Linked DNA regions of Homo sapiens: all the other regions are linked to region 2. Evidence: fine-mapped expression QTL. A gene starts in region 2. Each other region holds a variant in brackets. All regions are shown on one strand. Distances are from middle to middle.

The links. PIP is the estimated chance that this variant, and not a neighbour inherited with it, causes the effect.
Region 1: its variant is fine-mapped to the expression of BPI in testis (GTEx, PIP 0.95).
Region 3: its variant is fine-mapped to the expression of BPI in whole blood (TOPMed, PIP 0.90).
Region 4: its variant is fine-mapped to the expression of BPI in whole blood (TOPMed, PIP above 0.99).

Annotation. Positions count from the first base shown.
Region 1 is chr20:38,335,780-38,338,466 of GRCh38, forward strand. BPI (bactericidal permeability increasing protein) reads left to right here. Exons shown (of 15, transcript NM_001725.3): 15 at 1,367-1,726. The coding sequence ends at 1,405. Among named protein-coding and RNA genes, the nearest start is that of LBP, 9.4 kb to the right of the region's middle. The variant A/G (reference allele first, on the strand shown) is at 1,436.
Region 2 is chr20:38,302,694-38,305,380 of GRCh38, forward strand. BPI (bactericidal permeability increasing protein) reads left to right here and starts at 1,463. Exons shown (of 15, transcript NM_001725.3): 1 at 1,463-1,660. The coding sequence starts at 1,531.
Region 3 is chr20:38,325,359-38,328,045 of GRCh38, forward strand. It overlaps BPI (bactericidal permeability increasing protein), which reads left to right. Exons shown (of 15, transcript NM_001725.3): 10 at 907-1,074; 11 at 2,230-2,297. Among named protein-coding and RNA genes, the nearest start is that of LBP, 20 kb to the right of the region's middle. The variant T/C (reference allele first, on the strand shown) is at 1,374.
Region 4 is chr20:38,249,452-38,252,138 of GRCh38, forward strand. The region is part of intron 1 of KIAA1755; the gene reads right to left. It overlaps LOC124904900 (a long non-coding RNA gene), which reads left to right and starts at 2,512. Exons shown (of 3, transcript XR_007067581.1): 1 at 2,512-2,687. The variant G/A (reference allele first, on the strand shown) is at 1,507.

The DNA.
Region 1 (2,687 bases), 33 kb after region 2:
TACCCTTACAACAACTCTGGGATGTGGGTGCTGTTAAAAAACAAAGAAAGACCAAGGTTCAGAAAAGCCACACAGTGTTAAATGAAGTCCAGATTCAAAGCCAGGCTCCCGGCTTTGAACCATCACTGCATCGTTCCCACGCTACACTCGGCAAAAATGAAATGCATTTGTGGGCCAAAGAGCCTCTTTTTTAAGGTGCATTTAAATATTTAACGAATATATGTTGCACACCTTTTGCACCCAGCATCATACTAGGCACTGTGGGGTATAACATGTGGTCGACGTCTGGCAGATTTAGACACAGCACAGAAGTCTCCTTCGTGGCTTTCGCCCAGGCTGACTTCCGTCTGCATTTGACACTGATGCGCTTCCTGGGCATGCTTTCTTCTCTTAGTTTCCAGCACTCCCCTAGCTCTTGGTTGTCTACCTGCCACCTCCTCTGCTTGTTCTCCTGCCCCTTCTCTGCAAGCTGGAGATCTCCAGGACCCCTCCCCAGGCCTCTTCTCTTCCCCCGCCATTGGCAAGCCTTCGTCACTCTTGTCAACCTCTTCAGGCTTAGCTGCCACCTGCGTGCCACCCAATGTCCCAGACATGCTTCCAGTCTTTTTATTTTTTCCAAACTCTCAGCTTGTGCATTCGCAGGCTCCCTCAATGTCTCCACCCTGAGGCCTCTTAAACCCAGCATGTCCCCACAAAGCTGTCACCTCCGCAGCGAAACCGTCACCCAGCTTGCATTTCTCACCTTGGTCAAAGGCTTTCCTGATAACTTGTGGCCCTCCTGGGGAGCCTCGCATCACCCAGATCCCTCCCTCTCCCTTTCCCCCAATGTCCAGGCCATCAATCCTCAATTCTTTAGACCAGGGAGCTAATTAATGGGGCTGAGAGACTGTAGAAAAATAACCAAGAGTGCAGAGGAAACACATACCGCATATTCCTCACATTTTACCAAGTTCGTGTTTTAAAAAAAATGACCCATGGCACAATTTAATTTCTTCATTTCTAAAAATCCTGAGTGAAGGACACAAAGAAGCAGAGAGAAGTGGTTTTGCAGCCTTGATTGGAACAAGCACTCCCTTGAGCTGCCATGAGGCAGGGACGACAAATGAAGGCCTCTAAAACAGCCCGGGGGGTCTCCGTGTCTAAGAAGGAGGCAGCTTCCAGGGAAGCTGCTGACAGATTCGCAGATGTTGGCAGCTGTGGATGTGTAGATCCGGGCAGCGAAACACTGAGTGACCCCCACTGGCCCTGCCTTTCTCCTTCCTAAGAGGCAGGCTCCCAAAATGTCCTTCTTAAAACTCCAGTAGCTCCACACTCACAAACAAGGGGTGCATCTTCAACTGGTGACAACATTCTCATCTCTCCCTAGAACTTCCTGCTGTTCGGTGCAGACGTTGTCTATAAATGAAGGCACCAGGGGTGCCGGGGGCTGTCAGCC[A/G]CACCTGTTCCTGATGGGCTGTGGGGCACCGGCTGCCTTTCCCCAGGGAATCCTCTCCAGATCTTAACCAAGAGCCCCTTGCAAACTTCTTCGACTCAGATTCAGAAATGATCTAAACACGAGGAAACATTATTCATTGGAAAAGTGCATGGTGTGTATTTTAGGGATTATGAGCTTCTTTCAAGGGCTAAGGCTGCAGAGATATTTCCTCCAGGAATCGTGTTTCAATTGTAACCAAGAAATTTCCATTTGTGCTTCATGAAAAAAAACTTCTGGTTTTTTTCATGTGGATTCTGTGTGCTGGTATTGTTTCTTGTTTTATGTTCATTTATTTATTATTCATTGGCTGTAACCAATGTGGCCGGCAGTGCCAGTTTACAGCACAGATACAATCATCTCTTTTTATTTCTATAATTAATCTCTGGAATCCCCACAGCCTCCATTAACAGAAAGTCTCATTGTTCCAAATGTCCTTGTGATTTTCTTAGTCCAAATTCCTAATGTCACACAGAGAGGGTCTGGAGAGTGGGTCAGTCCACTATGCTGTTGTTCTTTCCACTACCACATGGTGTGGCTGTTGACCCGTCATTCTGCACAGCCCATTGTCCTGTGTAGTCACCTGTCCACTAGGACTGTTGCTCCCGTCACTACCACACGGTGTCGCTGTTGAAAAGCTAGCCTGCACAGCCCACCTTCCCTGCCCCACACTTGGGCTCCCCGTTTCATCCATGTTCTCCTGCCCAGCCATTGTCCCCAAAAGCAGAACAATGGGCCAGGTGACAGAGTCCATTGGGGTTTTCTGCTTCAGTCACATCTTTGGGTGCAATTAGCACTTCCCCATGACTCTCCCAGCTCTAGTGTGGAAGCCAGATCACCAACCCAGACTGTCTTTGGAATTCTGGGGAGTTTCCTTGGGGGCTTTGGGCCATTTCCTGCCATGGGACATCAGAGGGGGCTATCTCAGCCCATGAGATGGGGTTTTATGGATTGTACTTCAGATTGATTGAGGAGTCCTGGAAGGCCTTTCTACACTGCTGACATGTGCTCTGAGACCATAAGGATGAGCAACAACACACTGGAGGAGTTCGATGCAGACGGTGGAGTGGGGGACCACATGACCAGATTTAGTTTTTAAAATGTTTTATTGTGACTTCTGAAAGCATCAGAAGGACAAGAGGGCAAGGGATGAGCACAAATTAGGAATGTGTTGTTATTCAAGCTTCAACCAGATTGGTGATGGTAAAATTGAAGA
Region 2 (2,687 bases):
AAAAAAACTTTTAAGAAAAAAAGAAGAAAACTTCAGAAGGTCTCACGTCCTCCGAGCTCAGCGGACTTCATTAGACTTTCATAAAGTCCAAAGTCGGGGAGACAGGGCACTAGGGGGCTGATGAGGACCCAGCGGGAGAGAAGCTGGCTGCCCCTTCTGCAGCCCCGCCCCTCCTCTCATCACCATGGAGACGGAGCAGGCTGCCCAGTGGGGTTCCTGCCCACCCGAGGCCTGAGGCTGCTGCAGAGGGAGGGGCAGGGGCTGAGCAGACAGGGACCTGTCTGGAAAGCTGGGTTGGCGGTGGGGAGTGTCTACATCCCCCCAACTCCCAAGGCGCTGAGGGATTCGGGCTGGTGTGGGATGCATCTGGAGGGCTGTGTTTTGATCCTCGCTCTGCTAGCAGCTTGCTGAGTGACCGTGGGAAGAACGCTTCCCCTGGTGAAGCCTCAGGTTCTACATCTGCCAAAGGAAGGAGTAAAAATGTACAAAAACAGAAGCTTGGATAAGAAAGCTGTGGGATGAGGAAGCAATGAAATATTTAATGCTGGAGAAGAACATTTGCTACCTATTGTTTCTCGAAAAAAGGGAACTTTACCAAACTGACCAGGTGATCCCATATTGGTTAACAAACAAACATGGACTCTCTACCTATGCTTACCAACAAAAGAGGGAGAAAAGAAATACTCTAAAATACACTTTGGCTTGTCTCCGGAAGAGGGAGTTATATGTAATTTGTATTCTCTTGTTTCTTTCTCAAATTTTGGCCAATAAACATGGGTTACTTTTAAAATCAGGATAACATTAATAGCTAGCATTTGGATATTTATTTTGCACGGGCAGTATGCTAAATGCTTTACGTGGTTTTAAGCTCATTTTATCTTCTCCACAATCCAGAGAGGGAGCAGTACTATGTATTTCTCTTCTGCAGAAGAGAAAACCGAGGTTCAGAGAGGTTAAAGGGCTTGCCTGAGGTCGGACCACTAGAGAATGACAGGGCTAAGATTTAAAACCATAGCCAAGATACTAGACTCTAAAATGTGAGCATTGAATCATTACCACTACTGCCTCTCAGGACAAGAAAACACGAAAGCATCTGTTTTCTTAAATGTTTTACTATCAAAAATACAAAAGAAATCAAAAGTAGAAAGAAAAATATGAATCCTTATGTCTGTGCCACCCACCTTCAAGGGAGTCTGTAGATGGGGGCATTTGGGTGGGGACACAGAGCGGGGAATGGGGTGCCTAGGGAGGGGAACCAATCTACACACACACATACACACACGCACGCCCGCGCACACACACGCATGCATACATGGACATGCGAGCCTCCCAGGCTGCACTTCTCCCTGCCTGTGGGGCCCTAACCACAATGGAAAACCACAGCGGCCCTCCCTCTTTCCCACCCTCACCAGGTTCCTTCCTCCTTTCCACATTCTACTGACTTGCATTTCCCCAGCCGACTCTTTTATAGCTCCCTGGTTCAACCTCAAGGCCTTGAGGTTTTGGCAGCTCTGGAGGATGAGAGAGAACATGGCCAGGGGCCCTTGCAACGCGCCGAGATGGGCGTCCCTGATGGTGCTGGTCGCCATAGGCACCGCCGTGACAGCGGCCGTCAACCCTGGCGTCGTGGTCAGGATCTCCCAGAAGGGCCTGGACTACGGTAACTGGATGCCTCCCTTCCCTCCTCTCCACCCCTGAGGAGCACTTACTTAGCATCTACTGTGTGCACCCCTTTAGATCCAGCACCTGGCACACTCATAGCACCTCAGGGCAGGTCCCCTTGCCCCCATTTTATATATGAAGAAACTGAGGCAAAGCGAGTTGCCTAAGATTGCAGGGCTGGGATGGCAGAGCTGGGATTGGAGCACTGGTCTAGAGGACTCCAAGTCCAGTGCTCAGACCCCTGAGGGTCCTCATGGTCCCCTCCTTCCCTCTATGTAACCTCCACCTTTGACTTATAAGCCCTTCTCTTCTTTCCAAAGCCAGTTCTCAGCCTTGCCATTTGCCTCTCGTTGCTGAGGAGGCTGAGCAGGGTCAGAGGGAGAGTGTGGGAGGACCTCCCCACCCCGTGCTCTCCCCACTGCAGGGGCTGGCGGCCATACTGTGCACAGTGCTCCACTGGGTGACACAAAGAGGGTCCCCCCAGACCACTCACCCCAGCCCAGGCAGAGGAGAGAAAGACCTGCTCTAACCTGTGCCAGGCATTGAGCTAGGAACTTTACACACACAGTCTCTTTTACCCTCACTTCAGCCTTGTGTAAGACAAACTGCTGCTATCCACATTTACACGTGAGAAGTGGGCAGCCTGGATTTGAGCTCTGGTCTTGCCTGATGCCCCAGCACGGGGTTGCTCGATGCTGCCTCCCGATGGCAGAGAGATGACCTGCAAAACAGTGGGTGACACCCAGCCCCAGGGAAATCAGACCAAGGGGAAGGCAGAGCCTCACCAGTTGGGGTGCGTTGGGAAAACAGACAGGACTCAGGGGACCTGGTATCCCACCCCTGAATTCCCACCCCAGCCCAGCAGGACATCACTGAATCCTAGAGCTGCAGACAGAAGGCCACAGAAGACAGAAGAGCTAGGGGGAAGGAGTATGGCCCTGAAGCCTGTCGACACAGAGGCTCAGTCAGGGTCTTTAAGTTCAGTGGTCTTCATGCTCCGTCATAGCAGCCTGAGTTTCCCCTTC
Region 3 (2,687 bases), 23 kb after region 2:
TAGCTCTCGAGACTGGAAGTTCAAGGTTAAGGTGTCAGCAGATTTGGTTTCTAGTGAGGGCTCTCTTCCTGGCTTGTAGACTGCCTCCTTCTTGTGTCCTCACAGGGCCTTTTCTCAATGCATGCATGGTGGCGGGTGGGAGAGAGCTCTCTGGTGTCTTTTCTTATAAGGACACTAATTCTATCAGATCAGGGCCCAACTGTTATGAACTCACTTAACCTCAGTTACTTCGTTAGAGGCCCTTCTCCAAATGCAGCCACACTGGGAATTAGGGTTTCAACATATGAATTTGGGAGGACACATTCTGTTCATAGCAGTGTCTCTGGTGGTGAAACCCCAGAAATTTCTATACAGAGAAGCTCTGGTTGGGGGGAGAGGTGTGGCTGCTAGGGGTGTCCAGGAGTGTTGTCTTGAAGCTTCATTTGCATAACAATCACATTATTTTTACTCAGACTGTGGGTTTACCTGGGGGAAGATCAGAGACTAAGAGAAAGGGGAAGAAGGTCACAAAGGCCCTCCTTAGTTCCCCCTTGAAGCCACTACTGCTGTCTGAGAAAGTAACATCTGCAGAGACCTGAAGGAAGGGAAAGAGCCGAGAGAAGAATGCGAGGAAAAGTATCTAACAATGGGGAACAGAGAGTGCAAAGGATTTTAGATGGCAAGAGAGCTTGTTGAGTTTGGGGCACAGAAAGAGTTCCATGTGGCCAGAGATGGAAGACAAGAGGCAGAGGTACATGTGGTGAGGTTGGCAGGGTGCCAGCTGGCAGACTGTGCAATCTTAGGATTTATTCTAAGAGCAATGGGAAGACATTGAAGGTATTTAAGTAGGGGCAGGCCAAGGTAGGATTCAGAAACATTTTAACAGAAACTCCTCCTTTCGTTGATTGTCTCCACTGGGGGCTGCAGGTGGCCAAGAAGTTTCCCAACATGAAGATACAGATCCATGTCTCAGCCTCCACCCCGCCACACCTGTCTGTGCAGCCCACCGGCCTTACCTTCTACCCTGCCGTGGATGTCCAGGCCTTTGCCGTCCTCCCCAACTCCTCCCTGGCTTCCCTCTTCCTGATTGGCATGGTAAGCAGTTCCTGGGTTGGACAGATGAGGAGCCCCAGACAGTCCCAACAGCACTGTCTTTGGAGTCAGGAGACCATGTGAATCCTGTCTGGATTCAAACCTGGACTGTGTCACTCCGGAGCCTGAGGCTTGAGTCACTGTACTCAATGGTGCCGACTCCTGGAGGTATTCATTCACCCAGCCATTCACTAGTGCGTTTGTTTACTTATTCATTCAATTATTCATTCAGTCAATTTCTCATTCATTCAATTATTCATTCCATGTTGGCTTGAAATATGTGTACTGTTCCAATTCATCCA[T/C]TTATATCTTTAGTCATTCAATTATGCATTTGTGTATTTGTTCATTCATTCAATTATTAATTCATTCAGTTATTTATTAGATTGTTGACTTGAAATATGTTATACATTTTCTGATTCCCACTTGCACTCATTTATTCAATTATTCATTTACTTATACCTTTGTTCAATTGATCATTCATTTGTATATTTGTTCATTTATTCGTCCATCATTTATTCATTCATGCATATCTTTGTTATTCTTCAATTCACATATTTTTTAATCCTTCATTTGCCTCAGTTTTCACTCCATTGTTGATTTATGCATTCATCCCTTTGATCACTCCATCACTCCGCAAAGATTTGGTGGCACCCATATGGCCACTGAGGGTGTGGTTCAGACACTCTCTGCACCAGGAAGCACTTAGAGGCCTTAGGCAGGTCTACTGGGTCTCCCAAGCTGAGACCTGTTATTCCCACTTTGCAGACAGAATAGGTCCTAAGAGGTCATCCAAGACCACACAGACTGCACAGAACAGCTGAGGTGGGAACCGGGGACTTCCTTCTCATATTTTTTGAATGAATTAATGAATGAGGGATTGTGAGAATGGGGCTGGCCTGTCTTATGCAGCCTCTCCGAGAGTGGCCCAAGAACTCTGAAATGGTCCTGGAAGTAGAGAGAGAAAATGGAAATTGACAGTTTAGGACTCAACAGCCACAAAGCCAAGGGAAGTCTCCCCACTCCTCTGGCTCTGTGGGCCTGACCCCACAGTGTATGCTGCCCTGCTGAGCCGTTGTGAAGCTGACCCTTCTTGGTTTGGAGGCCTTGCAATCAGGTGCCTGGGTCAGGGCACTTCACCCTGGGTTGTTGTTTTGGCAGCACACAACTGGTTCCATGGAGGTCAGCGCCGAGTCCAACAGGCTTGTTGGAGAGCTCAAGCTGGATAGGTAAGTGGGCCTGTGAGAGGAGGAGGGGGCTGCCCCTCTGTCCTTGGTGTCTGTGGGATGACAGTGGTCCTGTGATATACAGAAGCACTGCATTGTTGTTTTCCTGTTGGCTCATCACATTAAAACCTCAAAGAGTGTGCGATGGCCACAGTATCCCCATTTTGCAGACCATGAAACTCATGCTCAGAGAAAAAGTGACTTGCTCGAGGTCACACATTGTAGGTGACCAACCATCTCAGCTTACCCATAAATGTCCCGGTTCTAGCAGTGACAGTCCTGTGTTCTGGGATATGGCCAGTCCTCATGGCTGGGAGGCGTCAGCTGATGATCCCCACTGAACCACAACAGCATGCAGCCACTGCACGTCCCTGGCTTTCCTTGACACTAGGA
Region 4 (2,687 bases), 53 kb before region 2:
GAGGAGGGTGGCATTTCTCAATGCCAGCAAGATTCCAATGCCAGGAGGCTTTTACAGAGGACTGAGGCTCCCTCCCACCCGTAGCCCACACAGTGCTGGGCGCAGGGGACCGCCATCACTATTTGTAGAATGAATGAGTGAATGAATGAGTGTCCACAGCCCATTGTGATGGAAACAGGGTCCGGGCACTGCCGTGGCAGTGAGCTCAGAGAGGATGATGGACCGACAGGCATCTGGTGCTGAAATCACATGTACCCAGGAGGTTTTACACTGAGGTGGAGGGAGGGGCCTTCAACTTGGCAGAACAGGGAAGGTCTCATCTGGCCCGGTGTCCTCTTCTAATCCCCCCCCAACCCCCACCAATCATGGTCAAACTCTGACATTTCCCACCCCATGCAATCCTGGGAGCAGTCCCTTCCCCTGCCAGGTGCCCTCCCCACTCCCTCCCTCCTCTCTCCTGAGACTTGGGCTCTGGCCTCTCTGTTGAGACGTTGGCTCCAGCCTCTCTGTGCAGCCTTGAGTAGGTCCTTTCCCTCTCTGGGCCTCTTTCCTTGTGTAAAGAAAGCATATTGAGCTGGGCTAAGCTTGATTTGTTTTGGTTTTGGAAATTTAATCATTCATGATGACTTTTATGATGTTTAGCATCTCCTCATACCATGCATACTATTAGCACTTACTATTTTTCTTCAAATCCACTCACTTTTTCAAAACTTACATAATTGTGTTTTTCAATGAGACTCTGTATCATCACAGTGGTTATGCAAGTGCAGCCAGACTGCCCGGGTTCAAACTCTGGTTCTGTCACTTACTGGTTGTGTGTACCTGGCAAGTCAGATTTAACTCGTTGTGCCTCAGTTTCCTCATCTGTAAAATGGAGACTGTAATTACACCCACCTTAAGGAGTTGATCAAGATTGGGTGTATTGAGGTAATACATGCGAATTCTCTGCACAGGACTAGAATTTAGTAGGTGCTCATTAAGTAAGAGCCATCACTACAATTTCTGTGGTCATATTATTATTATTATTATTATTATGGTGTGTGTGTGTGTGTGTGTGTGTCTGTGTGTGTGTGTGTGTGTGTGTGGTTTTAAGGAGCAGAAAGTTTAATAGGCAAGAAAGAAAGAAGGAAGAAGAAAACAGTTCCCCTGTATGGAGACAGAGGGAGGAGGATTCTAACAAAGAGAAAACCCCGTGTGCTGCAGAAAAGTGGCTGCTTCTACGAGGAGGTTGGAGGAGATGGTGTCTGATTTGCATAGGGCTCAAGGGATTGGTTTGACCAGGCATGTCACTCATGTAGCCCACGAAAAAACTGGCCCTACTACCCTAGCTTTTTAATATGCAAATGCAGGGCGCCATGATGTTCTACACAGGTGGGGATATGTGGGGGCGGCCATGTTACCAGGCACATGTGGGGGCAAGGGCAAGAAGAAGAAGGTAGGAATCACCATGTTTGGGTGGATCTGTGGCAATATTATAACTGTTATTACATCATCACTATAAATGGA[G/A]AAATAACTGTAAACTGGCATAAATCGAATGTAACTCCAAAAATAAACTGATGATGCATTGGATGGTTTTTGTATTATTTCATTTATTAAAATATATTTAAATATATTACTTATATAAAGTATATTTTTTGTTTACTGTTTGTATTTCTGTGAAAATAAACTACTTTAAAAAATAAAAATAAACAATGAAAACGAATAGTACCATTAAATTCTAGGGACATCTGGTCACCTCTTGGAGCCTAAGGGGGTCTTCTCCCTCTCTTTCTCCCAAATGCATCAGAGAGATGTTAAAGACATCTTATCCCCAGAGGAAGTCTTTCTCCTTAGGTCTGGAGAAGCTCAGGGAATTTGAAAGGGACTGATTGTCCATCACATGGTTCCATGTCATTTAGTTCCAGTCTGTGACATACCTTGTGTCTAACCAGGCCCGCATTCCTGGCCCCTATACTATGCTCATGACCTTCTGGACTGACCCAGGGAACCTTGTAGTGCAGAGGGACATAGAAAACTACCTGCTCACAGTGGTTATACCTGGGCAATGGAGTGGGGGTGGGGGGATGTGTATACTTCTATTTCAATGTCTTTGCAATGAGCCACTGCTATTATAGTCTTTTTTTTTTTTTTTTGAGACAGAGTCTCACTTTGTCACCCAGGCTGGAGTACAGTGATGCAATCTTGGCTCACTGCAACCTCCGCCTCCCGGGCTCAAGTGATTCTTCTGCTTCAGCCTCCCATGTAGCTGGGATTATAGGCACCCACCACCGCGCCCAGCTAATTTTTGTAGTTTTAGTAGAGATGCAGTTTCACCATGTTGGCCAAGCTGGTCTTGAACTCCTGACCTCAGGTGATCCGCCCTCCTCGGCCTCCTGAAGTGCTGAGATTACAGGCATGAGACACTGTGCCTGGCCCCATTATAATCTTAAGTATCATTTTCGTCAAGTAAAATAAACAAATTTAAAGGGCACAGGTTGATGCCTTTTTAACCTATGTATGAGCCCCTGTAACCACTTACCCAGATCAAGAGACAAAAGAGCTCCATACTCCAGAGAGAGGCCCCTTGCCAGTTGTCTATGTCATCACTGTGGTCTGCATCCTAACCTCAGGGAAACAGTGAGTTAAACTATCTTTCCCTGATGTGCCTCAGTTTCCCCTTCTGCACATAGATGGGATTCTGATTCCTA